7 linked regions of the Homo sapiens genome follow. The protein of the gene in region 1 purifies or fractionates together with the protein of each later gene. This does not show direct contact. Each region holds a gene or a part of one and is shown in the gene's direction. Other genes may lie near its edges. The genes, in order: TM4SF5, IMMP1L, ATL1, LCLAT1, SLC25A17, ATL2 and NUS1.

Region 1 (4,041 bases):
AGTCTGGGCAACAGTGTGAGACCCTCTCTCAAACAAAAGCAGAAACCTCAGACAAGTAGATCATTCAAAATTGGTAAATCCAAAAGGCAATTCTAGGTGTGTTTGGATCCACAAGCCTCCAGTAAGTGACCTAACCAGGGAGGTAAAGTAAGGTGTCAGCATGGGTCCTGGCCCTGCCATGAGACAGGAAGAAGAGAGAGCAGGTGTTTCTCTGAGGTTGCTGGGGATGATATAATAGAACTGAAACTCTCAGCCCTTTCCCTGGAGAAGCACAAAATGCTGCCTTGGATGGTATGTGCCAGATAAGACACATGAGGAGCCAGGCACAGTGGCTCATGCCTGTAATCCCAGCAATTTGGGAGGCTGAAGCAGGAGGATTGCTTGAGCCCAGGAGTTCGAGATCAGCTAGGCAACATGGTAAGACATGAACTCTCCAAAAAAATTAGCCAGGCATGTTGTTCCGCACCTTTAGTCCCAGCTACTCGGGAGGCCGAGGTGAGAAGATCATTTGAGCCCAGGAGGTTGAGGATGCAGTGAGCCATGATTGCACCACTGCATTCCAGCCTGGATGACAGAGTGAGATCCTGTCTCAAAAAGCAAACACACACACACACGAAAGCAAGAAGCAAGACAGCTGTGGAATTCCAGAGATAGGAGACAGGCAAAGAACCTGACCTGGTGCAACGAAGATAAAGGTAACGGAGCCAGATGAGGAGGCTTAAATGCCTTACAAGAGTTAGGCGTTCAAGTTACAAGTCTTGGCCAGGCGCGGTGGCTCACGCTTGTAATCCCAGCACTTTGGGAGGCTGAGGCAGGCGGATCACGAGGTCAGGAGATCAAGACCATTCTGGCCAACATGATGAAACCCCGTCTCTACTAAAAATACAAAAAATTAGCCCGGCGTGGTGGCATGTGCATGTAGTCCCAGCTACTCAGGAGGCTGAGGCAGGAGAATCACTTGAACCTGGGAGGTGGAGGTTGCAGTGAGCCAAGATCACACCACTGTACTCCAACCTGGTGACAGAGTGAGACTCCGTCTCAAAAAAAAAAAAAAAAAAAGAGTTCAGTCTTGATGGGCTTCTCTGTGAAGAGACCCTAAAGGATTTGAGCAGAGAAAAGACCAGTTGAAAGCTATGTTTAGGCCAGATGCAGTGACTTACACCTGTAATCCCAGCAATTTGGTAGGCCAGGGCAGGAGGAGCCCAGGAGTTCAAGACCAGCCTGAGCAAATAGCAAGACCCCATGTCTACAAAATTTTTTTTAATTAGCTGGGAATGATGACGCATGCCTGCGATACCAGCTACTCAGGAGGCTGAGGCAGGAGGATCACTTGAGCCCAGGAGGTCAAGGCTAAAGTCAGCCACGATCAAGCCACTGCATTCCAGCCTGGGTGGCAGAGTGAGACCCTGTTTCAAAAAGAAAGAAAGAAAAAAAAAAGCTATGTTTAACCTGATAGAGGATAGAGTGTAGGGTGGCATGGGGCAAGAGCTATGAGAGTGTAATAGGGAGGCTGAGAACACCCTCATGGGAGGTGATGAGGGATTCAATGTGGGGAGGAACTCACAGATTCAGGAGCCACTTAAGTAAAAGTTGAGAAAATTTGATGTCTTTCTGGGTGCAAGATTAAAGCTTTCCAGCCTGGCTGACCTAGTAGATGTTATTTTTTCCACTGATGGAGACAAGAAAGTCAAAGGGAGATGAATTTGAGGAATATTGTGAGATGAGCGTGAGGCTGGTTGAATTTGAGCTAAAACCAAGATATTCAAGTGAACATAGGATCTGGAGGCATCAGTTTTGGAGGCAACTTCTGGCAGAGTGAAGAGCTGATTCCCTGAAAGGGGATGGGCATTGTTAGGAAAGCCACAGGGAGAAAAAAAGACCAAGGCTTGAATCTTGGAAAATGCTACACTCCATATCAGACCATCCACTAGCACTCTTCCACACTCTACTGTAATCCCAATTCACCAGACACTCCAACACCTCTATCCCTTCCTGCTGCTGAGGGAACTTATAAATATTGAGTTACTCTGAGCTGGTCTTTTTTTTTTTTTTTTTTTGAGATGGAGTTTCGCTCTTATTGCCCGGGTTGGAGTACAGTGGCACGATCTCAGCTCACCACAACCTCCACCTCCCAGGTTCAAGTAATTCTCCTGCCTCAGCCCCCCGAGTAGCTGAGATTATAGGCATGCGCCACCACGCCCGGCTAATTTTGTATTTTTAGCAGAGTTGGGGTTTCTCCATGTTGGTCAGGCTGGTCTTGAACTTCCGACCTCAGGTGATCCACCAGCCTCAGCCTCTCAACATGCTGGGATTTCAGGCGTGAACCACCGCGCCCGGCCTCTGAGCCAGTCTTAACACCTAGTCAGCTTGTTCTCCCATTAAATCCTGAGAACAGACCTGTGAGGTAGATCTTCCAGACCCATTTTATACAGGCAAAACTGAGACCCTGAGAGATGAATCAATTCATAGCATGTGAAGTAGTTTCCCTGATTTCCATTCAGTAGGGCACCTACTATGTGCCAAGATTGGGGAAAATAATGATATTGGGCCCTACCCTCTAGAGGCCACAATCTGGACAGAGATAAGGTAGGCACGTAAATAAGGATAAAGTAAGGTGAAGCCCAGCAGCTCCAGGAGACGTAGAGATAAGGTCTTCTACAGTCCAAAGGGCTGAAGGCATCACAGGCAGCTTCCTGAAGGAGGTAGGCACTGATGCAAGTCAGGCCTGGAGGATCTGGGGGGACGTGCTATAACAATGACTCTTGTCCCACAGGTACTGTGTCCGGGGATTGCAGCCGTTCGGGCAGGGGGCAAGGGCTGCTGTGGTGCTGGGTGCTGTGGAAACCGCTGCAGGGTAAGATCCAGATTAAGAAGGAATTCAGGGCTGGGGGTGGTGTCTCATGCCTGTAATCCCAACACTTTAGCAGGCTGAGGTGGGAGTACGGCTTGAGCCAGGAGTTCTAGACCAGCCCAGGAAACATGGCAAGATCCCTATCTCTACTAACAATACAAAAATTAGCCGGGCGTGGTGGCAAGCACCTGCAATCTCGGCTACTTGGGAGGCTGAGGTGGGAGGGCCGCTTGAGCCCAGGAGGTCCAGGCTGCAGTAAGCAGTGATTTAAAAAAAAAAAAAAAAAAAAAAAAAGAAGAGAAAAGATACAGAAATTAGCCAGGCGTGGTGGCGGGCACCTGTAATCCCAGCTACTCAGGAGGCTGAGGCAGGAAAATCACTTGAACCCTGGAGGCAGAGGTTGCAATGGGCCGAGATCACACCATTGCACTCCAGCCTGGGCAACAAGAGTGAAACTCTGTCTCAAAAAAAAGAAAAGAAAAGATACAGAAATTAGCCTGGTGTGGTGGTGGGCGCCTGTAATCCCAGCTACTCAGGAGGCTGAGGCAGGAGATTACGGTGAGCCAAGATTGTGCCATTGCATTCCAGCCTGGGCAACAAGAGCAAAACTCCGCCTCAAAAAAAATGTATTTTTATTTTATTTTACATTTATTTATCTTATTTATTTTAGACATAGTCTTGGTCTGTCACCCAGGCTGGAGTACAGTGGCACGATCTTGGCTCACTGCAGCTTCCGCCTCCCTAGTTCAAGCCATTCTTGTTCTTCCAGCCTCCCAAGTAGCTGGGATTACAGGCGCCTGCCACCACACCCAGCTAATTTTTATATTTTTAGTAGAGACGGGGTTTCACTGTTGGCCAGAGTGGTCTGAAACTCCTGGCCTCAGGCGATCTGCCCCCCTTGGCCTCCCAAAGTGCTGGGATTACAGGTGTGAGATATCGTGCCCAGCCTCGAGTCAGGTTTAAAATAAATTTCCCTTCAAACCCCGGGCTTGCAGTTAGGCTAACCTGAAAGCCAGCGGCCGCCGAGATTCACTGGGGTTGTAGTTCCCCCCTCTCCCCTTCACCCGCCTACCCCTCAGGATCATTGAGATCTGAGATTTGTGGGTGCCAGGGAAGGGTGGGGTGGGGCCTGGGAGTCCGCAGAGGAGCTTGTGTAGCTAGGAATTCCATAGAGAGTGCTGTGGTTCTGC
Region 2 (4,041 bases), on another chromosome or scaffold:
ATCTGTAACCAGGATAGTTACTTCCTCTTTTTCAATTTGGATGCCCTTTATTTCTTTATTTTGCCTAATTGCTATGGCTGTGACTTCCGTTACTATGTTGAATAAGAGTGGTGAAGGTGGGCATCCGTGTCTTGTTCCAGATCTTAGAGGACAGGCTTTCAGCTTTTCCCCCATTAAGTATGATATTAGCTGTGGGTTTGTCATATATTGCCTTTTATTGTTTTGATGTATGTTCCTTCTTTGCCTAATTTCTTGAGAGTTTGTATCGTGAAGTGATGTTGAAATTTATCAAATGCTTTTTCTGCATCTATTGAGATCATTGTATGGTTTTTGTTCTTCATTCTGTTGATGTGCTATATATCACACTGTTTGATTGGCATGTGTTGAACCATCCTTGCATCCCTGGGATAAATCCCATCTGATCGTGGTATATTATCTCTTTAATGCGTTGTTGGGTTTGGTTTGCTAGTATTTTGTTAAGGATTGTTGCATCTGAGCTCATTGGGGATTTTGGCCTACAGTTTCTCTTTTCCTGCATCTGGTTTGGGCATTAGGGCAATGCTGACCTGGTAGAATGAATTAGGAAGAATTCCCTCAATTTCCAGTTTTTTGGAATAGTTTGAGAAGAATTGGTGTTGGTTCTTTTTTATATGTTTGGTAGAATTCAGAGGTAAAACCATCTGATGCTGGGCTTTTCTTTTTTGGGAGACCTTTTATTACTGGCTTCATCCTTTGCCAACTTTGTGATGATAATAAGCAAGTTACTTTACTACTCTTAGGCTTTTTTTTTCTTGTCTATAAATTGAGGATGGTAATAATATCTATCTTACAGAGATAGTATATGTAAATCTTGACATGTTAAGCAGATGTTACATATTATTATCGATATATTTTAATAAATTTGATCTGAGAACAGTATATTGTAGCCTAGGCCTAAGAGTTAGGCTATTAGTTAAGAAATGCATGATACATAGTTGTAACAGTTAAATAGTAAAGGACAGATATTAGAAATATTTTAGATGAACAATATTTTAAAATTTTATATAGCTTTAAAAAATCTTTAAATGGTTCTTTATGCTGTTGTTTCATAGTATTTATGTGTTCCTTTTGTTACATCAGTAGTTAATAGCTCACAAATGAGTGTATCTTTTTATAAAGTACTTTGACATACATTGCTGAATTTGATTCTAATAATCATTCTATGAGAGTATTTCTACTAGGCCCCAGAAGGGTTAAGTAATTGTTGAAGATTATACAAGTTAGTAAAATAACCAATGTGAAACTTGAATCTCCATATTCCTATTCTAGTGATTTCTCCATTATTTCCTATTACATGGCAAGAAGTAATATATAGCAAGGAACTTTTATTAGTCCTTTGAAAGAGTTACTATCTTTTTTAAGCATCTGCCTTAATAGAAGAAACAACCAAGACATGGAAGGGGACAGACTAGTTTATAATCTACTAATTATATAATTCATATGTAGACCCAGTGACATTTGAATATAAACTTTGGTAAATCAAAATATTTAGTGGCTACAATTTGCCATTTAAAATATCATTAGAACTGATAACAAACTCTTGGTTTCCTGCACCAAATTGTATTAGGCACTTAGTACATTTTGGGTGATTGTAAAATATTTTACAATAGTTATTTCTTAAGTGTTTTTAAATAGTATTGATCATGAAACTTTTTGAAATTTACCATCAGGCCAATGGTGGCAGAGTCTACATAGAACTATGCTTCGTGGTGTTCTGGGGAAAACCTTTCGACTTGTTGGCTATACTATTCAATATGGCTGTATAGCTCATTGTGCTTTTGAATACGTTGGTGGTGTTGTCATGGTAAGTTTTTATGTTCAAGAATATTCATCTTAAATATATACTTTCTTTCAAATGGAAGGAAAGTGTGTTTTTCCTTTTGAAAACCTAGTTGAAGTTATTTAATGACTAAACTGTGAAAGTTAAAACATAAAATCTTTCTAAATATTGGAATAATAAGAGAGTGTGTTTGAATTGGCACTGATAGAAGGTATAAGGACCATTACTTAAATATTTTCTGTATTCTGTTTCTAATGGGCACAAAGGGTCCTTTTGAATAGTATAACAATAATAGTCATTACCATTTATTGAATCCTATTTACTGTGTTTCAGGATATGTTTGATGTTTTACACTTACTAACTCATTTAATCTTTTACACTTCTTTGAGATACTTACTAGTAATCCATTATACACATGAGGAAATGAACTGAGAAAGCTTAAGTAATTTACTTGTTCCAGGTCCCACAGTTAGTAAGTAACTTGAAATTTCAACACATATTTGTCCAGTTTTCAAAATTCCAGCTCATAACCACAATAACTGTAATTAAAACAAATTAATCATCTGTAATTAAGACAGATTATTCTGCCTAATGTCTATATTAAAATGTTAAAGTTTTTCCCTATCCCCAACTAATACTTTTTCTTAATATTATATTGGGAAACTACAAACTGTGGCTGTTGATTCAAGCCTTTTGTCATGTAAGTGAAAGAATAAATTGATTGACCAGCCAGTCAATTTTTTTTATTGTTGTTATTACTGTTTTTTTTTTTAAATTAGGTTTACTTTATCAGATTGACAGTCACATAACCTCCAGTTAAGGTGGAGTAATGGAAATATATATATTTAACTGAAATTTCCCTTCTTTTTTTTTTTTTTTGGAGACAGGGTCTTGCTCTGTTGCCTGGGCTGGAGTGCAATCAAGTGATCTCAGTTTACGGCAGCCTCTGCCTGCTGGGCTCAAAACAATTCTCATGCATCAGCCTCCCAAGTAGCTAGGACTACAGGCGCACATCACCATGCCTGGCTAATTTTTGTATTTTTAGTAGAGATGGCGTTTCACCATGTTGGCCAGGCTGTGCACGAACTCCTGGCCTCAGGTGATCTGCCTACCTTGGCATCCCAAAGTTCTGGGATTATAGGTATGAGCAACTGTACCTGGCTGAAACTTGCCTTCTTGATTTTTTTGTAAGTTAGATTGGTACTTCCAAAGGTAGCAAACAAACTGTAATTGTATTTCCTCCTATTTCTGCCTGAGTAGGAACTTTTGAGTAAAAAGTTTTATTTACAAATAGAGTAAATGGAGACTGTCGGATTTAGATTTTTAAAGTGGCGATGATAGTTTTTTCTGATTCTGAGGTAGAGTTTGAGTATCCCTTATCTGAAATGCTTGGGACCAGAAGTGTTATGGATTTTAGATTTTTTTGGATTTTGGAATATTTGCATATACATAATGAGATATTTTGGGGATGGGACCCAAGTCTGAACGCAAAATTCATTTATATTTCATATGTACCTTATATGCATAGCCTGAAGGTAATGTTATACACTATTTTAAAGAATTTTGTGCATGAAACAAAAATTTTGACTGCATGTTGGCTGTGATGCATCACATGGGGTCAGGTATGGAATTTACCATTTGTGGTGTCATGTAGACACTCAGAACATTTCAGATTTTAGAGCATTTAAGACTTCAGATTTTTTATTAGGGACACTCAACCTGTATATATCAAGATTATTGTTTTGAGACATACAAATAGGAAAATCTTTAATTGCTTCATTGTAAAGATGGGTTCTATTTAGGTTGCCAGGTTTGGTCTTGAACTCCTGGCCTCAAGTCATTCTTCCAAAGTTTTGGGATTACAGGTGTGAGCCACCATGCCTGGCCATGAAAATCTTTAAAGTCCATCTCATCATGCTAGTATTTTTCAGTAGAACATTTAAGTTGCAGCCCCATGAAATGAGTAAGCTATTCTCTTGGAAGAGGAAGATGGGCATAAGCTCACTGAGAATAGTATAATACCATTTAGTAAATCATCATCATGTTCACTGGATTATATCTGATAGTAATAAGAAAATGTATTATTCTCCCATTCATTCAACCAATATGTATGGTTTATCAATTTTGTACCAAACATTGTTCTTGGCTTTGGTTATATAGCTAGGAACATGAGAGAGATCTCTGCCTTCATAGAACTGAGATTCTATAGGGTGGCCTAAATT
Region 3 (4,041 bases), on another chromosome or scaffold:
TCTCATATTTACAACCTATGATTTGATTAGCATTAGCTTTGTTAGGAGCTATCTGAACCACTATCATAAGTTGTCATATCATTCTCTTTTTTAGTTAAAAACTTCCAAAAGCAGTATCAGATTACTTCAGATTGTCTCTGTACCTGTAGGCAGCAGGTAATAGCTACAATTCTTCCAGCATTAAGAACATACTTATGGCCAGGTGCGGTGGCTCACGCCTGTAATCTCAGCACTTTCCGAGGCCAAAGTGGGCGGATCATCTGAGGTCGGGAGTTTGAGACCAGCCTGGCCAACATGGAGAAACCCCGTCTCTACTAAAAATACAAAAATAGCCAGTCATAGTGGCGCATGCCTGTAATCCCAGCTACTCGGGAGGCTGAGGCAGGAGAATCGCTTGAACCCAGAAGGCGGAGGTTGCACTGAGCCGAGATGGCACCACAGCACTCCAGCCTGGGCAACAAGAGTGAAGCTCCATCTCCCAAAAAAAAAAAAAAAAACCCTACTTATATATACTTTATAACATAATTGTAACGTGCCTTTGAAGGATCTAGCTGAGATAAACTAGTGGTAGCACAATGGGAAATGAATGAAGTAAAAACTGGATCCTCTGAGCCACTTTCTGAAATAGTCCCTCAACCACAAAAGATTTAAGAGGGGTTGAGGTCAATGTCAAAACCCTCCTAGACTTATGTTATGCTAAAACCTATGAGGAATACAGAATTGAGTTCTTCAAAGATTCTGATAAAATATGTAATCTAAACTGAAAAATCTGCAGGAGTATCTGTTCTGAAATGCTCACAAATTAATATTGTAAGCAAAGTTGATTATAATGCTGTTAATAAAGCAGGATATATACTTTTCTTTTTTCTTTTTAATCTGCCTTTGCCACAGGGAAGTACAAATGAGGTAAGTTAAATTTTTTAAAATTCAGAGCTATGTATGTGTAAACATTATGATATTATTTTATAAACTGACTAAGCCATTAAAAGATGTCTTTATGTAGATTAGAACAATCTTTGGTGACTTCTAACATTTAAATTTGTAATTGTGAATTTTTAACATGGTCTTAAAATATTTAACTTTTTCTAGACATCATGTATGATTTGATCTACACACACACAAAAACTAAGAATTGAATATCATCAGTATTTGTTTCATGAATGTGTAGAAAACTTCAAAATTCTTAAGCTCTGAAATGGTGGACTCTGCTGTACTGCAGAGTAAAGCAAGCAGTTATGAAACCTGAGGAAATGTAACTACTGGAGGGTATTTATTTAAATGTAGCTACAACCTTTAGAAGTTGTTTTCAACTTTGGCTTTTGACTGACAGTAATACATACCACTTTAAGCAGGGCCCAGGCCAGTATGTATTCTTTCTTGGCAGACCTCAGGCCTGACCTGTAAATTAGTGTTCATTTCTCCTACCGCACATGTGCAACACTACATATCTCAGAAAAGACTCTAGGCATCCACGAAGGAATCATCTGTTACACTAAGAAAAATTACCACTCTGGAATCATTTAGGTCATTATCTTCAGGAAGCAAAGCTGATCTTGAACAACTATAGAGATAATTCTTTCCTCAGTTTCTACTGTGGCATATAATTGGATTATGTCCTCGAATCAAATACCATTTACTATTTACAAGTCAATAAGAAGTTATTTTATGCAAAATTCAGTAAGCAAGTTCATTAAAAAAGCAAAAGCAAATTTCAGCTTTGTAAATCAAAGCTTAAGAAAAAATATAAGAGAATTAGAATTAAATTGAATGCCTTAGAATCAGAATATAATGGAAAACAATACTATGTTGCACCAATATACATTCACAGATCTGAAGATGGTACCATACAGACGTAATGCCATAAGAAAATCAAGGCCAGGCGCGGTGGCTCACGCCTGTAATCCCAGCACTTTGGGAGACTGAGGTGGGCGGATCACGTTAGGTCAGGAGTTCGAGACCAGCCTGGCTAACATGGTGAGGCCCCATCTCTACTAAAAATACAAAAAATTAGCCAGGTGTGGTGGCAGGCACCTGTAGTCCCAGCCACTGGGGAGGCTGAGGCAAGAGAATAGCTTGAACCTGGGAGGAGGTTGCAGTGAGCCAAGATCGTGCCACCACTGCATTCCAGCCTGAGCGAGAGAGTGAGATTCCAACTCAAAAAGTAAAAAACAAAAACAAAAACAAAAAAAAACCAGATCCAAAGAAAGTAGGTATAGACTCACAAATGATAAAAATTAATGGAATTTCCTGGGAACAGATTACTATTTAAAGGATCTCAAGCTTTTATGCAGCTTTTAAAAATATTCAAAGACTCTTTACGAACTCCAGAACTAAATCAGACAAGTCATTTGTAACTGACTGTCAAGTATGTGAAAGTCAGAGGAGGGGATGAAATCTTAGACACTAGCTAACGGGGCCAGGAAACAAAGATATCTATGAACACTTATATAAAGCAATATACAATACACAGAGATTCCTATGATTCAAACATCATTAAAAACCCACAGAGAACAATAAGAGGTAGTTTTAAATGAGGAAAGCTTGCTGAGGTAATGTTTTTGAATAAGGTTTGTAAGATATTAGCTAAGTCACGGAAACAAGGCAAGAGCGTGTAAAGTGAAGGATCCTACTGTGCTGGGGGAAGGACACCATATGTGCTTAGCTGCATGACTGTATCAGTAAATGATGGAGAATAAAATTGGCCCCACTCAGGAAAACACTGGAAGCCCAGAAAGCAAGTAGCCTAGCTATGCATAATAGTTACTGCCAATCAGAAGTTATGAGGTCTTACAATTCATCTAAAACTGCTAATATTCACAATTTGAATTTTCAGCACACCCCTGGGGCAAAGTAGAAGCTCACTGCTCCAAGAGGTATGCAAGGTAAAAGGAAACACAGTTTGAGAATAAAACATTCACCACACAGGTCAACACACAAAAGTGTTAATGCACACATTGAGGAGTTGAAAATACTTTTGAATTTTAAGATAATAATTTATATATCGATTAAAAAAGATTTCAAATTCAACATGCTAAATTTTATACAGTACGATAAACTAAAAAGGAAAAAATTTTACATCTGTGTGTTTAATAAAATGTTTTATAATTTTGATGCTTTTATTCTAGGCTTTGTACAAGCTTTACAGTGCAGCAGCAACCCACAGACATCTGTATCATCAAGCTTTCCCTACACCAAAGTCGGAATCTACTGAACAATCAGAAAAGAAAAAAATGTAATGCAAATTTTAAGAAATACAGGTGCATGACCAATTGTCAATTAAATATTCAGTTTTATGTCTCCATGCAAACATTCAAAGTGCTTCCATCAGAACGGAGTAAAATACTAAACACCTCTGAAGACTGCAAACTGGATTAGTTCTTTTACTTCAGTGTTTAATAAGCAGATGTATGTATGCATGGTTATACTATTTTGTTAACATGTACAATTTCCTGATTTTTCTTCAAAAATGCTGTTATAAAGTATTTGTCTATTTATGATAACAGTACACGTGTTCTGCTTGAATTTACTAAATTCTACTACTGGGTTATAATTAAATCATGTGATATTCCACGTTTGGATATGCTCATTTAATTTCTACAGAAAAAATTTTAAATTATTTCACATTAGCCATTTGTTAAAACACAGCATCATAACTCAGCAGGCTGGATTTAATCTGTATCATCTTATATATATCACAATCTTATTTTTAAGCACATTTTAGAGTTCCTTAGTTGCTTTATCAAAAACCAGATATTGCTTTTACATGGTTTAATAGAATATAAACCTCTTGATAAAAAATGCACAAAAAATCACTTTGTATATGTGAGTTTCACTGCATTGTATATTTTTTCATTTGGTACACAAAGAATGTATTCTTCATAGGTTTATTCTTTTAATATGTGAACTATTATTAAAGTTTACTCTGGTTCCTAAGATTAAAAACAAATGCTTACTGAATTTGAAAATGAGAGGTGCTGATATAGAATGATGAAGGTTTATCTCTTTTTTTAGACTCAAGATGCATTTTATTTAATGTTGACA
Region 4 (3,281 bases), on another chromosome or scaffold:
ATATTCTTGTCATTTGGAGTCAGTGGAAAATCCAGCACACCAAGCACCAGTCTTCTTCTGAGGCAAAAGAAAAGTGTTGTCATTTTCACTCTGTTGGAGCTGCACACTTTTTTTTCTTTTTTTTTTTCTTTTTTTTTTTGTCGTGTAAGAAGGATGCTGGTCAGAGCTGCAGAAAATATGAGGCAATTAAAAGTCTTTAGCTGTTAGCAAACCTGTTAGTTTTACTTCTGCATTGAACCAGCCTCAGAAGCTACTTACTGCTTTATGTACTCTTTGGGCATTAATGCCTTCTCTGTAATTATATCTCGTTTTTGCTTGACAGTGACCTACCCAATAATTGCATCGTGCATTGCCATGAAAGGTAAACACATTGTGAACTGAACTTACCAAGCAGATTCTGTGAGAAAGCACTGGTTGAGGCTGAACACTGTTGACACATCATTTTTATTGGAAGAGTATTAACTGGTGCCTCTTCTGAAACACACCAACCCATATTCCTCTGCTCCCCCAAAGCTGTTTCTGATCCTGCTGGGAGCAACTAACTAGTTATTATGCACATCTGCTCCAGACCCAGCTCTTTAACTTCATGGTTTTACAGCTTGTTTTTTCTTTTTCTTTTCTTTTTTTTTTTTTTTTTTTAAAAAAGCACCTTTTTTTGTTGTTTCCCCTTAATAAAAGAGGTTTCTAATTTATGTTTCTCTAAGATTTCCTTTGGTTGTATTTAGAAACACAAATAGTTTTATAATCAGGATTGCATTTGTGCTGGGTAAAAGAGGAGAGCTGTGCTTTCTACCCCAAAGTTGTTGGTAATGGAGCCGGTCTGCCCTTCCTACAAACTCAAGAGGCTCATTGTTCAAGGTGTAACAACATTTAATTGCATGTCCTCTAACGCTTTGAAACCTTTAGAGGGAAGATCCTCATTTTTTACAATTTTGTTCCTTTTCATCATAGAAAACATGTTTAAGATAAAATACAAACTTTACCTACCCCAAATTCATAAAGTACATTTAGTGCTGTATAGCACTAAAACTTAGAGATACAGACACTGTACTTACTTTTTAAGAATTAGAGACAGTAACTCCAAAAATAATTGTCCTTTTTTCTTTCTTTCTTTTTTTACAATAAGGCTCTTGAAAATTGTCATTACTTGTGTTTTCCTATACATTCATCTGTGTGAAAGCCTTTTTCTTCTTTGATTTAAAAAAATTAACTATACAGTTAATGGTTTAGAACTTAGAACTACTTAGAATTAATGCTAAAGTGTCAGGAAGAAATTAATTTAGCTTCAATAATTGTGACTGGCCTCAGGAATTCTCCCTTCCACACCTGCCCACCTCACCTCACTGCACCGCACCGCACCAGAGCCAGAGCAGCTGCTTGTCTGCAGCAGGACACAGTTCCTACATACGTTTCAGTTCTTTCATGGTAAGCTCAATGGACTTTGAATTGTTTACAGTGCTGTATGTCCAATTGTTAAATGTACCATTCTGAACGATGTTAAAGCAAGTGTGGTTTATTTATGGCATGAACCATGTAACTTGAAATATGAACTTACAAGGAGGGGCACTCATTAGGTAACAAGTTCTTACACCAAACTTCCTTGATGAAATAAGCCAAAATAATCCTAAAATTCATTAGAAGAACTTGATAAAAGACTCAAATAAATGTTAGAAAGAGCCCGTAATTTTAGGACTCCTATAAAATTCTTCCTTGTTTGTTAATGCTATTAAAACTCAGATTCAAGGGAAATACCAGCTTCCACTTGAGTCACTTTGAAATAGTTAATTCAACAGCACCATGTTAGAAATATATTGGCAGCCAAGACTCTGAACTCTGCAGAAACATTTGTTTCACCCAGACTTCAAACTCTAGCCCTGACTATGATGCCCCTGTGTGCATTTACAATAAAGACTCCAACGGAGGGAGCCTGTTGGTGTTAAATTGTTTACATTTCTTTATACAAATAATGTGCTTTCAGTGCCTTAGTTACAGCTCCCTTTCTGTTTCTTGTTCCAAGGATTCTGTAGTATGTAGTGTGTTTCTTAGGTAAAGTCTCTTTTTGCTACTGAAAGGGAAATGGTCTCTAAACACTGGTCACTGTAGCAGGTAAACACTACTCTAACGTGGAGAAATGAGCTTCATGCTGAGGTAGTGGTTGCCTTAGAGCTGTTATTTATGCTGTAGAAAACGAAAATGGTTTTGCTACCTGATAAGCTTCAGATTAGATATAGCCCTAAAGTTATCCTGTACCTGCATTAAATTTTCATTTTAGAAGAGAATCTTGGTTTTGGTAATTCATTTTTTTTTAAGATCATTATGTGCAAAACACCAAGTTTTAAAAATAACTCACAGAATGGCCTTAGTTTTCAATGTCTGATGGTATATTTGTGAGTTGTGTTATCTGTAATATACATCCCAGAATAAAGGAGTGAATTAAATAGTTTACATGTGTGTTACGTTCTGTTTTTGCAGGAATAACAAGTAACTGCAAGTTAAGGTGCTACTTTTTTCCCCACAATGCCTTGCATTGCAGTGTCTAGTGTTAAGGAAAAACCTGGCCAGTTAGGTCTCTTTTTTCCACAGATGTCAAGAAAAGTGGCCTAATCAAGAAAACAATGTACTACCTCCATAATAGGAAAAGTCCAGGCACCACAATTGAATTAAGGACTCAACGAATGTCATCAGAACTTGATTTTCCTCCATCTCTTAGCACAGCCTTGCTATTGAGAACAATTTGGTTGTTCCACAAATGTGGGATCTTATATAAATATCAGCATGACCAACTCTTACCTAAGATAAGTGGGACTCTGTGCTCCAGTCCCTGACCTCACGTTGGGGAGTATATAACTATAAAAGCAAATCTTGGACCAAAATCTGACAAATGTATAAAAATGTGCTTAGCAAACAGACAAACACATGAGAATCACGGAGCCTCTTGTAATGGGGCCTTCTGCAATGCCCCACTCTGTCTTCTCAAGTGAGCACTTTGTGTGATAGATTCATGTGGAGGGGAGTCCACAACGTTGTTCCCTGGGAAAGGGGAATGCAGGACCAGAAGAGCACAGACCCGGCCCCAAGAGCGCCAGTCCCACAGACTGGGACATTGGGTTTGTGGGACTCCTGTCCTCCGTTTAAGCAAAAGGAAGAGAAGGGTTTTGTTTCTCACCACCTACTTAGCTTCAGCATTATTCATTTCACTGATAAATTATATAAAAGGCTTAAGCAACCCTCTCTGGAGGGTGGATTTCTAGTGAGGGCTTCAAATTCCAGCTAGTATGTCC
Region 5 (4,793 bases), on another chromosome or scaffold:
CCTGGACAACGCAGAGAAACACTGTCTCAGGTTTAAAAAAAAAAAAAAGCTGATCAAAATGTTTTTGGTATGTAAGATACAAAAACGTCAAAACAAAGTATTAACAATGTTTTCATAACTATGATGCATAATCCAGTATATTCTTGACAGCAAGCTCCCAATTTGATCAGGAGTCAATGAGAACTGAGTTCTCAAGTTTTACAGCCAACTAGTTTCTATGTTCCCATGCCAAAATAATCTTTTTTTTTTTTTTTTTAGGAGTCTCACTCTGTCCCAGGCTAGAGTGCAGTGGTGCAATCTTGGCTCACTGCAACCTTTGCTTCCTGGGTTCAAGCGATTCTCCTGCCTCAGCCTCCCTAGTAGCTGCAGTTTCAACATTGTAATTTCTACAAGGCGCGTGCCACCATGTCCGGCTAATTTTTTCTATTTTTAATAGAGACAGGGTTTTGCCATATGGGCCAGGCTTGTCTCAAACTTCTGACCTCAAGTGATCTGCCCGCTACGGCCTCCCAAAGTGCTAGGATTACAGGCCTGAGCCGCTGCGCCCAGCCCAAAATCATCTTCGCTTCACTTTTGGTCCTTCACTTTCACGTCATGATTCTATGGCGTGATGGGAATGTTCCTGGAAGCAGTATCTTCTGCAAATTTTGTGAAAACGGCCAGGTTAAACTTTGTTAGACCCCTCTCCCAGGGATTAAGTGTGATGATGGGCATAAAACACTAAGCCTGGCATGTAGTCAGCACTGAGGAGTTATCACGAGGATATTCTAAAAGGAAACATGGTAAAGACAAGTGGTGATGGTGTCTCAGGAAAGAATCCCTGAGTCCCTGAGGAGCATCCTGAAGCAGAATCTCACAGTATGACAGGTTAAAGCTGAATGTGGCTGCTTTAGTTTTGTGTAATTTTGTTAGTCACTTTGCAACATGGAAAAAAATTTTTTTCCTTCAGTATTTTATGAAGTACTACTACATAAATTGGCTTTCGTAATCCTCACAGCAGATGGGGATTGTTGGTACTAGTACATTGTCATTTCACAGAGGAAACCCAAGAGGTTAAATGACTTCCATAGTTGCCAACTAGGGGGAGGCTCCCACTCGCGTCTTGTATTTTGGGCTCCTGATGCTCAACATCTCTTCCCACCACACTCAAGGGTTTTTCTGGAGGAAGAAGTTTCCAAGTCCACAAGTGAGTTTTTTTCCTCTTGGCCAAAATGTGACTTTCAGAATAGAAAAGAGCTCAGGCGCAGAGAAACAGGGAGACTGGAGTCTCATTGAGTTTCCCCATCTTTGTCACCAGAGTAAAAGAAGGCCATTAAGACTTCTGAGATGGAGGAACTGGTCAGGGCCCGGGAACGCCAGAGAACGTCGGAGGAACCGGGAGCCGGGTACCTGGTGTCAGGCCGCCTTGCGCCTTGGAGCCCAGCCCCGCGAACACCTCGCTGTCCCGCCCCGCGCCCACAGGGGCCAATCAGCGTTCAGGGGCGTTCTTAGCCGCCCCCCCCCCCCCGCTTTCCCGCCCCGCGACCCGGAAGTGGTTCTAGGGCAGGCGGGCGGGTTTGAGAGGGCGGGGATTGCGACTCTCACACCCTGAGCTCCGGTGCTCCTTTCCTAACTCCACTGGCTGCGGCATCTGTGGGAAAAGTGTGGCTGGGTCTTCGAGGAGCCGCACCAATGGCTTCCGTGCTGTCCTACGAAAGCCTGGTCCACGCCGTGGCCGGAGCCGTGGTGAGACGGGGTCTTTACGCCCGGGCCGCAACGGGTTATAAGGCTTCTCGGGGGCCAGTCCCGGGATATGCCTGAGGGATGGGTCTGAGAGGGAGGTAGTGTGGGTTGGGGTCCACTGTCATGACTGTGGGGCAGAGAGGAATGGGCCATTGGCGGAAAGTTGTTGGAGGAATTCGGGGTAAGGGCCGAGACTCCGCCACCTCCTGGTCTCCTAGAGACTGCGGGGTAGAGAGCCGTGTTCACACGTGCCCGCTCAGGGTCCGCATCTTTGCCGTGGGAAGTTTAAGGTCAGGCTACCACCGCACACTCACACACTTTGCTTTACTGGCCCGGAGGAGAACGTAGGTGTGAAGCCGTGTTGCTTAGTCACATGCTTCCCTACAGCCTGTCTTCACGCTTGCCGCGGGCAAGTGGCAATACCTAGTAGGATAGCTCTGGGCACCGTTATTGGCAGGAGAAGATAGATCCTTTTTTTTTTTTTTTTTTTTCCGGACAGGGTCTTGCTCTGTTGCCCAAGCTGGAGTGCAGTGGCGCGATCACGACTCACTGCAGCCTCGATCTCCCGGGCTCCAGCGATCCGCCCACCTCAGCTTCCTGAGTAGCTGGGACTGCAGGTGTGAGCCACCACACCCGGCTACATTTTTAAAAAAAATTTTTGGGGTCTGGCAGTGTTGCCCAGGCTGGTCTCGAATTCCTGGCCTCAAACGATCCTCTCGATTTGGCGTCCTAAACTGCTGGCATGAGCCACTGTGCCTGGCTTTTTTTTCTTTCTTTCTAAATCAAGATCTGGGTTCCTGTCTACCACAAGTGTGGTTTGTTATGAGGTATACGCTTGATTCTTGGGCTTCTGGTGTCTAGGTTCCACTTGACACTTCCCCTCTCCCCTCTTTTCCTTAAAACTTTCCACTTTTGGCTTGGGTGACTCCTCTTGTGGTTCTTTTATCTCTTTGACTGCCTTTTCTCATATTCTTCACCAGTTGTTAGCACACACCTTTAGCTGTTAAAATCACTGTGACTTCAGAGGAACATCACTGAATCCTCTGTTTAGCCTCCAGAAACTTCACTGAGAGCTCACCTTCTCTGTAGACTAATCTGGATTTAACCCTAACTCCATCATTTGTTAGCTAGATGCCCTGTAAACCTTACTTTCTTAATCTGTAAAGTGGGGGAAGTGATACCTACCTCACAGAGTTTAGAGAATTAAGTGACACAGCATTTCATGAAAATGCCTAATTCAGGAAGCCTGGTTCATTCAGTTCAGCCAGAAGAGCCTTTCAGCCAGCATGAAGGCTGAGATGGACGCTTGCGTGACTTGCTTTAAGATGGGCATGGAGGCCTGTGTTTCCGGAGTGGAGGGAACAAAGAGGCAAATAGGTTTCAGGGGGCCAAATTGTGTGAGACTTTCACTCTGGCTAGCTGTTGAACTTGCTGATTTACCTTTAAACGTGATCACCCTGGCTGCTGTGTTGAGAGTAGAATGTAAGGGAACAGGGGACAAGCAATTATCAGGCGAGAGATGATGGTGACTTGGATCCGGGTGGTAGCAGACATGGTAGAAGTGATCATTGACCTGGAATATATTTATAAAATGAGGGTTGGTTGACTCCAAGAGTTTTTGGCTTCAGTAACTGGAGGGATGGTGGTATTTACTGGGATGGCAGAGGCTGTGAAGGAGAAGGTTTTGGGGGAAATGATAAATTTGGCTTTGGTTTTGGAGGAGTTTGAAATGCCTAAGAGTAGTCGTGAGACTAGATGAGCTCACTAGGGAAGTGTGTATGGACTGACAGAAGAATCTCAATGACTGAGTCTTGGAGCAGGCTAACCATTAAGAGGCCGAGAAAATAAGATTGCACCAGCAAAGGAGACAAACGAAGGATGGATCAGTACTGCAGGAGGGAAGCTAAGAACTAAGAGTGAAAGCCACGTGAAGAAAGTGTTTCTGGGGAAGGAAGTAGACCAGCTGGGTCAGATGCTGCTGATGGGTCAAGTAAGGTGAGGACTGAGAAATAACTGAGAATTTATCATGTTGATAAATCCAGTGGTTAATTGAAAAGACCAGTTTTGGTGGAGTGGTGGGGGAAATAGTTGGAGTGCATCTAAGAGAAGAAAGTGAGAAGATGGGAAATGTTTTTCTCTTCCTTCTTGCAATAAATGTTCATTAAACACCTTTATTGAGTGCATTCTATGTGCCACACGCTGTTCTAGGTGCAAGGAGTACAGTAGAGAAGGTCTTTTTCTTCATGAACTATGCATTGCAATAGGGGAGTCAGACAATAAATGAATAGGCTGGGTGCGGTGGCTCACGCCTGTAATCCCAGCACTTTGGGAGGCTGAGGCAGGCGGATCGCCTGAGGTCAGGAGTTCGAGGCCAGCCTGGCTAACATGGTGAAACCCCGTCTCTACTAAAAATACAAAAAGTAGCCAGGCATGGTGGTGGGCGCCTGTAATCCCAGCTACTCGGGAGGCTGAAGCAGGAGAATCACTTGAACCTGGGAGGCAGAGGTTGCAGTGAGCCAAAATTGTGCCATTGCACTCCAGCCTGGGTGACAAGAGCAAGACTCCGTCTCAAGAAAAAAAAAAAAAAACAATAAAAAATAAATGAATAAATAAAAAATAAGTAGAATAATTTTAGATACAGTTAAGTGCTATAAAAGAACATAGAGATTGGCAAACTTTTTAAAGAGAGCAGATGGGAAATATTTTAGGCTTTGTGTACCGTTGTCACAGCTACCCAACATTGCCATGGTCGTGTGAAATCAGCTGTAGACAGTAAATGAATGGACAGAGCTGTGTTCCAATAAAATACTGTTTTCAAAAACAGATATTAGATTGGATTTGGCCCATAGGCCATAGTTTTCTGACTCCTGCTATAGAGAGAGTGACTGGCAATAGTGGTAATATATTTCTATTTAATCTACAAAGATACTTCTTTTTTTCACTTGTTGCCTATTTTTCTCTTTTTTTCTTTTTCTTTCTTTCTTTCTTTTTTTTTTTTTGAGATGGAGTTTCGCTCTTGTTGCCCAGGCTGGAGTGCATGGAGTGCAGTGATGCAATCTCGGCCCACCACA
Region 6 (4,717 bases), on another chromosome or scaffold:
TTTAGCAAATGGCCTATGCTGTGCTGTTTGTAAATGGTTTCTTTTTTCTATGTGCCTAAGCAAATGTTTTTTAGTGAGTAAATGACAGTAAATAAATCTTTGTAGAACAATCCTCGTGAAGATTTTTTTGCCCTTCTTCTCCTCCTCCTCCTCCTTCTTCTGCTTCTGCTTCTTCTTTTTCTTCCTTTTCAATACTACGTTTTTCAGGCCAATGATAAAACAGAAAATGTCTTGACAAAGTGAGCTCTCCAAATCATATATCACAAGGACGTAAGAGGAATATCACTTAACAAGTTGATAAAGATCCTGCCATCAATATGAACGAGGGGGAAGGGTAACTGTACTTTAGATTGTGGAGGTGGTTCAAGTCCCAGAACTAGAATCTTAGTAACTCAAAGAATATTGCCAAGAACACGTATATAGTTATTCTCCTAGATTTATGTGACAATGATGACAAACTCCATATTCTGTTGAAATATATTTGGATGGGCCGGGCGCAGTGGCTCACGCCTGTAATCCCAGCACTTTGGGAGGCTGAGGCGGGTGGATCACGAGGTCAGTAGCTCAAGACCAGCCTGGCCAAGATGGTGAAATCCCGTGTCTATAAAAATACAAAAATTAGCAGGGTGTGGTGGCGGGGGACTGTAATCCCAGCTACTCCGGAGGCTGAGGCAGAGAATTGCTTGAACCCGGGAGGCGTGAGCCACCATGCCCTACCTAGAATGGTATTTTGAAAGCTTTAATAACACCAGTGCTTTTCTAGAGATTGTGCATGCTGTGAATTTTAGACTTATGAAAAGACCTGGACAAAACAGCTGTTTGTACACCCGGACATCTGTTTTTACTGGAGAAGAGGAATTTCTAATGCAGCTGGCAGTATGGTAAAAATCCAAAGGGATCATGTTTCACAGACGCCTCCACGGGCTGACTTGTAATTTAAAAAGTGACCTGAACTTTCTACTGGATGTCACTGGATCCCCAGAAGAAGGTTCATCACAATTAGGTAAGAACCTGCCACGATTCATTTTCCGATTAGAGTGCTTTCTGGCATGCCTCTGCAAGGTGCTAGGAGCACAGGGCCAGGGTATACACAGTTGAGAAGATGGGGGAAGGTCTCATAAGTAGATGGGGAGCGAATGCAAACAAACCTTAGGATGGTGGGGGGGAGGGGAAGCAACAGTAGGGACTTGGGTGAGGAAAGAAAAGATCAAGAGGAAAAGCAGGGCACTGGCAACAACTTGGGGGGTGGATGGGGAGAGAGGAGGGGAATGGCTGTGATGAGGAGGGGGCGATGAAAAGGAGAGAAGGGGTGCGAAAGCCACCTCACGTGCAGGACGCACGAATCAACGATTAGAGATGTAAAGCGAATTGGGAGGGAGGGACTTAGTTCTCTGGAGCTCCCTTCTGCGTTTGCAGAGCCTGGCCCAGCGCTAAGGGGGTGTGGTGCTGAGCTCAGGGAGGTGGGGGTGTGAGACGGCGGCGGCAGGGACACCCCCGCCCCAGTCCAACCAGAAACTTGGAGCCGGGGAGACGGATCTGCAGGCGGGCAGGGCGAGGGCGGAGCGAGCGAGCGATGGGCGGGGCGGGGGCGGAGGGAGGGCGAGGAGATACAGGCGGAGGGCGAGGAGATACAGGCGGAGGGCGAGGAGATACAGGCGGAGAGCGGCGCTAGGACCCGCCGGCCACCCCGCCGGCTCCCGGGAGGTTGATAAAGCGGCGGCGGCGTTTGACGTCAGTGGGGAGTTAATTTTAAATCGGTACAAGATGGCGGAGGGGGACGAGGCAGCGCGAGGGCAGCAACCGCACCAGGGGCTGTGGCGCCGGCGACGGACCAGCGACCCAAGCGCCGCGGTTAACCACGTCTCGTCCACGACCTCCCTAGGTACGGGCCAGCGAGGCAGAGGCCGCGGGGCCCTGATGGGGAGAGACGCTCGCTGCTCGGGCTCGCGGGCACCGGCCGCAGGCGGCGGGGTCGGAGTCCGCGGCTGGTTCAGGTCTCCTCCCGCCGCCGCGCCTGCCCGCCGGGCCTAGCCTCAGCCGCGCCCCGCGCTCCCGCAGCGCGCGGCCTGAAAGGGCGGCTCGTGGGCCGCGGCTCCAGTAGCTGCTGGGAGAACCAGTGGCGCGCGCGTCTGCGACCGGCCCGGCCCCCTGCCCGCCAGCCCGCCGCGTGGCTGCCGCCGTGTCCGCCCCGACCTTAGGGGGCGGCCTTGAGCCGTGGCCGCCTGCCCGGGGCGCGGGGAGGTCGGCTGCGGCTCCGCTCCGTCCGGCGAGCTCCGGACGCGGCGGGGCGACCCGTTAGCTGGTGGGCGTTCGCTGTCCCTTACGCGGACAGGGAGGAAGGGGTGGCCAGGGCATGATGGGCCCCGCGGAGGAGGAGGTCGCGCGGGGAGCAGACACCTTGCTGCCGGGTCCGAAAGCTCCTTAGACACCCTTCCTGGAGGGAACCGCAGTCCGCAGGCCAGGGCTCTGTCCCCGGGCTCGCGTTTCGGGGCTCCTCGGCTCCCGAACCCATTCGCGCGGGTTGTGCGTGGCTAGGGTGCAAGTCTAGATTTTCGTGTCAAACTGGGGTTATGAGCCGTTTACGAGTCACTTGGACGATAGTAAGGCCTGATCACTCTGAAAGTGTCTGTAGTGTGAAGTCACCTGATCCTTGGCTCCCTGGTTTTGCTGAATGTGAGCTCCTACTGTACGTGTACCAGGAGCGCCCCTGCCCCCTCGAAGACGCAGTTGCGTTGGCAGCGCAGTGTATCCCTCTCACTCATAACACCCCTATTTATAGGAGTTTAGCGTTTGATCTCTCACTGTGGTGCGAATTGATCGCATGAAATCCTGATTGAAAATTTTGATGGTACTTAAGAAAGGCATAAAGTTTTTTCAAAGGCTTATAAATAGTAAAAGCCTACGATTTGGTAAGTACGGCCAAGATAAGAGTTTATTATTAAATACAGATACGAGCTCGTGTCTTAAGATTTCTTTTTTTACGGTGTGTAAAGGTTTTGCTGGATAAAATGTAAAGCATTTTGGTATGATGTTAACCACAAGGACTCACTTTAATAGGAAAGTTTATTTGAAATATACTTCATCATTCCTGGTAGTTCTTGGCGCATGTCAGAGGTGATGACAGACTGGAGTTTTGCTAAGGGAAGAAGAAAAGGAAATAAAGCTTATTTTATTATTGTCTGCCAACCAAAACGCTTGACTGTTTGTACAGTGGTAGCACTCTGTAGAATAAAAAACTACCAAAGAAGCAGCTTCGCCTTAGATGTGTGCTGGTTGGATTTCTTAAGTAATTAATTGTTTTGGAATGCGGATGGATTAATTTCGCTCTTTTGGTTGGACCCTAGGGGAAGAAGTGTGTGTTCTTTTCTTTCTTTCTCTTTCTTTCTTTCCTTTTTTTGAGGTAAGAGTTTTAGATGCAGTTTCAAAATATTCTATGTATTTACCTTATTAGAAGAAACATAAATTTATACTTCAGTTATGGTTGTGAACGTTGTTGTGCTGTGGTATCTTGAGAAGAGATGATACTCTTCAGATTGTTGTTGAAATAGGGCCCACCATTTATTATTTAATAAATGCTTTTGTCTGCTACTCATAGGTTTTTGTCCTTTGTTTTTTAGGACGGATCAGCAAGACCTTCACTTGATAGCCATTCCTAGCAAATGATTGCCTAAAACAGTCCCTGTACCTGCTAATTTGCTCCGAGTCACTCATTAATGAGTTAAAAACTAAATGAGCTTGGTAGGATTTGTGTTTAAAGTGAGAAGAAACAGACTGAATGAAAAGGACTCATCTATTTTTGACTGTGTAGAAACTCTTTGTCTCCCTCTGCTTCCTGGAGAAATAGCTTCAAAAACCAAGTTGGGGTCAAGTGTCACTTGAGTAGTTTAGTGTTAGGGAGAGGCTTTGTGTTTATTCTTTTAGGAATGTAGGATCTTTAGAAAGCAAATAAGTACTCATTTTATTGGCTTTTTAAGTTGATAGGATTCTGTAGATATGATTAAATCTATTTAGTAAAGTGTTTTGAAATTCTTCGAAATTATTTAGGGAGAAGTAGCTGCCTTACAGTAAAGATATTATAGGGAAAAGAAACCCTGAGTGAAAATAAGATTATGGCCTTAAGTCGAGTGCACATAGGTGTATTTCAGGATTCGTTTTTCTGTGACTGTATTGTAACTTTAAAGTTTTGGAATATTCACAAGTATAAGTAACTTTCTTGAAATTGTTAGACCTTTTCCAAAATTAGGCTTTTTCCACAGTTGGTATTAGGCAGCTAGCTGCTAAGAGTACGGGGAGACTGATTAACTAGTTTGATAATGCTGGATGGAGTTCAACATATATTTTTTAAATTTTGGGACTTCATAGCAAGATGTATTAAAAAATTGTTGATGGTCATTTGGAAGACCTGTTTGACACACACAATTGTCAGCAAAGCTGTTTGTCAGGCCCTTAAAAAGTTAAGAGCCAGAAATGTAAGGCATAGGAGTAGAAGTTAAACTTTTTGGTAATGGTGGTTTAGAGCTTTACAGCGCAAAGATTTTCTCCAGATAGGTGCAGGGAAGCAGCTTTCTTCTTTTCTTTCTTGTTTTTAACGTGTAATGGTATTCTGATTTTGTAGACATTTTGGGTTTTCAAAGTCCAGGTGTATTATTTACTTTCTAGAAAATTTGAGAGTTATTTACTTTAAGGAATGTAGATGTGAACATAGAATAACTGAACT
Region 7 (4,041 bases), on another chromosome or scaffold:
ATATGTATATATTTATTATATATATGTGTATATATTAGCCTGTGTTCTCTCTCCCAGTTATTTTGTTAAACTACTTTAAAGTCATGCCTGACTGAGAGTGCAGAGTAGGAACATTTGATAAAGATTAAAAAGGCAATGGCTACTAGAAAGCTGCCTCTGCAAATTGTCAAAGACTTGTTCCTTTTTTTTTAGTCAGAGCTCTTACTAGTTTTACATTAAATGTATGTCACATAGTTCCTTTGTCTTTCTCATCTTTCTCAATAACATGACAGTAGTTAACAGTGTTAACTTTTCCCTGCATAGAGGACCATACATTGTTCTTTGTATTTTATTTCTGTGCTTTGTTTTAAATTTACTAAATTGTTTTTCTGTTCTCTTTTTACGTAATCCTTATTACTTCCTCTTATGATTTAAAAAACTAATCAAATTGAGGCAAGATTATTTAATACAAGTAGTAAATCTGCAGAAAAGGTACATTAGACTGTGAGTGAGGAACATAACAGGCTCTAGACCACTGCTGCAGTTTATAATTTCTTGGAGAAGAACCTTAAAGAGTTTAGGCCTCAGTTTCTGAATCCATAAAGATTTTAAGTAAGTGATCTCTTAAAATTCCTAAGTCTAAATTTCTGTCATATTCACATGCCACTACTTAAGTAGTTACCTCTGTTCTTTTTTTTGCTGGAAGCCAGACTCTTGTATTAACAAAGTTTTGTTGTCATGTTTTCCTTTTAGATTCTAGTTTAGGACTAGTCATTACAGCTTTGTTTGACATTCGTTTAGTTCTGGATCTAGTGTTGTTTTCATAGCAAGCATTCACTTGAAGAGGAAAAATTAACCTAGTTGTGTTTTACTTGCCTTTTTCTTTTTTAAAGGTATTTTCAAAAGAAATAATTCCAGATTGATGGATGAAATTTTAAAACAACAGCAAGAACTTCTGGGCCTAGATTGTTCAAAATACTCACCAGAATTTGCAAATAGTAATGACAAAGATGATCAAGGTAAGCATGAGTGTATAATTGAACATGTAACATATGAAGATGTGTGTTTTGTGTTTCATGGCAATTTCTGTTACTCTGTCATTTATTCATTCACGTTGCTCTGTTACTCTTTATTGTCAACATCTTTAATCATCAGATTTAGACTTTCTCGTCTTAATCTTGGTAAAAAGTGAACACATGATAAGGATTTTATTTAACCAGGCAAATTTTTTAACTGGTTCCACAGAGAATCCATAGAATGGACACATTTGTAGAGATATTGAAATGAATATATAAATAGAGGTACAACTGGTTGTTCTATGGAGTGAGGAAAGAAATTGAATCTTTGCTGGACAAGAAAGAATTTGCATGTCTATAGATAAGAATTTTGCAGTGTTATCTGAGAATCCCATCAATTGTAAGATAGCTCCTATAAAAGTAGAATTGATAAAGGTATGTATGCTATAGGCAATGCATATTCCACTCTAACAGTTTTTTCTTAGTCTTTATTTTTTCTTTTATTCTGTGTTACTGCTAACGATATCGCAATTATACAGGAAATTTTAGATGCGTGAAAATTTGTTAGCTAGCCTATAAAGTTTCTGTTTTCTAGAGGATGTAGTCACAATGTATAGTCATTCTGAACACTTTGAAAAGAAGGCAGTGTATAAATATATACATGGATGTGATTTGGGATATATGGATCCTTTCAGAGGAGAATAGCTAAGTATGTTTTGATATTGAAATTGAAGGGCTTAAAAAATTCTTGTTTACTGTAAGAACTGTATGTTTATTTTGGTTTAACCTTGTATTTCTTAAAACTGCTTTTGAAATATACCTGGAAGAGAGTGTTTTTAAAATACATTGTTTGTTTTTTCTTCCAGTTTTAAATTGCCATTTGGCAGTGAAGGTGCTGTCTCCGGAAGATGGAAAAGCAGATATTGTAAGAGCTGCTCAGGACTTTTGCCAGTTAGTAGCCCAGAAGCAAAAGAGACCCACAGATTTGGATGTAGATACGTTAGCCAGTTTACTTAGTAAGTTTTTTTATATATATATACATATATATGTATATGTATGTGTGTGTGTTTAGTTTTGTCACACGAGGATACAGTATGAAAGAAAATATTTTTGTTTCTTTCACACCATAAAGCCTGATTCTTTTGTTGTTAATACCTGTTAAATTTCTGAAATTTAAAGACCTATGTAAAAATGGTTTCGAGACAATGAAATTTGTAGCCACTCACTCGCATGAGGATTTAATGGTAAAGGAGATGACCTTTGAGGATCTTTTTTGTAGTGATGAATATTCTTGAAAATAGGACTTCTGCTTGTTAGCCTTCCTCTCCCTCTTCCCCTTTCTTTTTAGTTTGAACTTTCCCTTAACTTTGAACTTAATCTTTTTATGAGGTGATCCCAGGAATATAATCTTACTGTTACCATGATTCCTTTTTAATTATTCTTTCTATTATGCTATACCAAATATACAACTGTATTTGTCATGTTATACCAAATATAACTTTTTTTCTTCAGCTGTTTAAATAAGCCTTTGGTTTGCATATTCTGTCTAGAGAATTCCCTCTAGGACCTTTTTGCCATAATGTCATGGTTCTTCTTGCTTACTAGCATTAGCCTTGATCCTTTTGAAGAAAGACAATCTCTCTAGTAAATTCATGTTCATTAATAGCTTCTATAGGCATACAGTTTTAGACATTCATTCATTTTTTATTACTTAGACTATCCATTTACTTATTAATCGTGCATTTTCAGGCTGGATGGGGTGGCTCACACTTGTAATCCCAGCACTTTGGGAGGCTGAGGCAGGTGGATCGCTTGAGCGCAGGAGTTTGAGACCAACCTGCGCAACATAGCAAAACCCCATCTCTACAAAAAATAAAAAATTAGCCAGGCATGGTGGCTCACGCCTGTGGTCCCAGCTACTCAGAAGGCTGAAGCAGGAGTATAGTTTGAGTTCAAGAGGCAGAGGTTGCAGTGAGCCAAGATCGCATCAGTACACTCTAGCCTGGGTGACGGAGTGAGACCCTGTCTCAAAAAAAAAAAAAAAAAAAAAAAAAAAAGAAAAAGAAATGCATTTTCTATCTTAACTTATTTACTTAACTCTCCATTCTTTGTTTCTTCCACTTTGACATGTGTCCGTCACAGAGCAAAGTCCATCTCCCACTTCTTGGTTTCGCTAACTTCCTACTTTTGTTGACTACTTGCTTCTTACCCTACCCTGTCATTGCCTAATTATATTCAGGCTCAGTGAGTAGTAGACCATTATGGGGCCTCTCTGCTCAGATGTTACTGGGATGTTGACTGTTTCCTGCACCCTATGAGACCCTAATAAGAGAGTAATTTCATAAGGACATTCTAAAAGTTGATGGAGATCCAAAGATGACCTTCAGGTAGTCCATGGGAAAGCGCTAATGTTTATTAAGCCCAGTTGTTGCCTTCAGGCATTGTAAGCTTAGGATAAATGAAAATGTACACAATTCTTAACTTATTAATTTGACAGAGGCAAGCATTCTGAATACCATCACCATCAAAAGTTCCTTTGTGACTGCATTTAGTCCCCACTCCTGCCCCCTAAACCAGCAACCACTGGTCTGGTTTCTGACTATACTTTCGCTTTTTCTATAAATTTTATATAAAAGGAGTCATACAATATATAGTCTTTTATGTCTTGCTTTGTTTACTTACCATATTTTTGAGGTTCATCTATGTAAAATGCATTAGTTATTCATTGTTTTTTATTGGTGAGTAGTATTTTCTAGATATACCACGTTTTGCTTATGCATTCATCGGTTAATGCACATGTGGTTTGTTTCCAGTTTTTGAATAATGCTGTATGACTGTTTGTGTACAAGTTTTTGTGTGGATGTTTGTGTGTTTTCAAGAATTCAGAAAGTCAGAATTCTATCAGATAAATTTAACAAAGAGAGTGAAATAATTAAAAAGAATCAAGCAGAAATTCTGGAGTTGAAAATGCAGTTGACATACTGAAAATGCATCAGAGTCTCTTAATAGCAGAATTGATCAAGCAGAAGAAAGTTACAAGCTTGAA

The links.
Region 2: the proteins of TM4SF5 (region 1) and IMMP1L purify together in Homo sapiens (affinity purification with mass spectrometry; one large-scale study listed by BioGRID and IntAct). This does not show direct contact.
Region 3: the proteins of TM4SF5 (region 1) and ATL1 purify together in Homo sapiens (affinity purification with mass spectrometry; one large-scale study listed by BioGRID and IntAct). This does not show direct contact.
Region 4: the proteins of TM4SF5 (region 1) and LCLAT1 purify together in Homo sapiens (affinity purification with mass spectrometry; one large-scale study listed by BioGRID and IntAct). This does not show direct contact.
Region 5: the proteins of TM4SF5 (region 1) and SLC25A17 purify together in Homo sapiens (affinity purification with mass spectrometry; one large-scale study listed by BioGRID and IntAct). This does not show direct contact.
Region 6: the proteins of TM4SF5 (region 1) and ATL2 purify together in Homo sapiens (affinity purification with mass spectrometry; one large-scale study listed by BioGRID and IntAct). This does not show direct contact.
Region 7: the proteins of TM4SF5 (region 1) and NUS1 purify together in Homo sapiens (affinity purification with mass spectrometry; one large-scale study listed by BioGRID and IntAct). This does not show direct contact.

The regions. Positions count from the first base shown.
Region 1 is NC_000017.11:4,778,016-4,782,056, forward strand, and holds part of TM4SF5 (transmembrane 4 L6 family member 5), read left to right. Parts: intron 1-2,773; coding exon 2,774-2,854; intron 2,855-4,041. UniProt on the Homo sapiens protein: Acts as a lysosomal membrane arginine sensor.
Region 2 is NC_000011.10:31,460,974-31,465,014, reverse strand, and holds part of IMMP1L (mitochondrial inner membrane protease subunit 1), read left to right. Parts: intron 1-1,709; 5' UTR 1,710-1,738; coding exon 1,739-1,843; intron 1,844-4,041. UniProt on the Homo sapiens protein: Catalyzes the removal of transit peptides required for the targeting of proteins from the mitochondrial matrix, across the inner membrane, into the inter-membrane space. Known to process the nuclear encoded protein DIABLO.
Region 3 is NC_000014.9:50,629,104-50,633,144, forward strand, and holds the end of ATL1 (atlastin-1), read left to right. Parts: intron 1-891; coding exon 892-906; intron 907-3,125; coding exon 3,126-3,236; 3' UTR 3,237-3,942; downstream 3,943-4,041.
Region 4 is NC_000002.12:30,641,781-30,645,061, forward strand, and holds the end of LCLAT1 (lysocardiolipin acyltransferase 1), read left to right. Parts: 3' UTR 1-2,445; downstream 2,446-3,281. UniProt on the Homo sapiens protein: Exhibits acyl-CoA:lysocardiolipin acyltransferase (ALCAT) activity; catalyzes the reacylation of lyso-cardiolipin to cardiolipin (CL), a key step in CL remodeling.
Region 5 is NC_000022.11:40,816,127-40,820,919, reverse strand, and holds the start of SLC25A17 (peroxisomal membrane protein PMP34), read left to right. Parts: upstream 1-1,573; 5' UTR 1,574-1,671; coding exon 1,672-1,725; intron 1,726-3,542; exon of another isoform or gene 3,543-3,717; intron 3,718-4,793.
Region 6 is NC_000002.12:38,374,308-38,379,024, reverse strand, and holds the start of ATL2 (atlastin-2), read left to right. Parts: upstream 1-1,751; 5' UTR 1,752-1,764; coding exon 1,765-1,882; intron 1,883-2,494; exon of another isoform or gene 2,495-2,845; coding exon of another isoform or gene 2,846-2,909; intron 2,910-4,717. UniProt on the Homo sapiens protein: Atlastin-2 (ATL2) is a membrane-anchored GTPase that mediates the GTP-dependent fusion of endoplasmic reticulum (ER) membranes, maintaining the continuous ER network. It facilitates the formation of three-way junctions where ER tubules intersect.
Region 7 is NC_000006.12:117,692,170-117,696,210, forward strand, and holds part of NUS1 (dehydrodolichyl diphosphate synthase complex subunit NUS1), read left to right. Parts: intron 1-872; coding exon 873-998; intron 999-1,861; coding exon 1,862-2,011; intron 2,012-4,041. UniProt on the Homo sapiens protein: With DHDDS, forms the dehydrodolichyl diphosphate synthase (DDS) complex, an essential component of the dolichol monophosphate (Dol-P) biosynthetic machinery.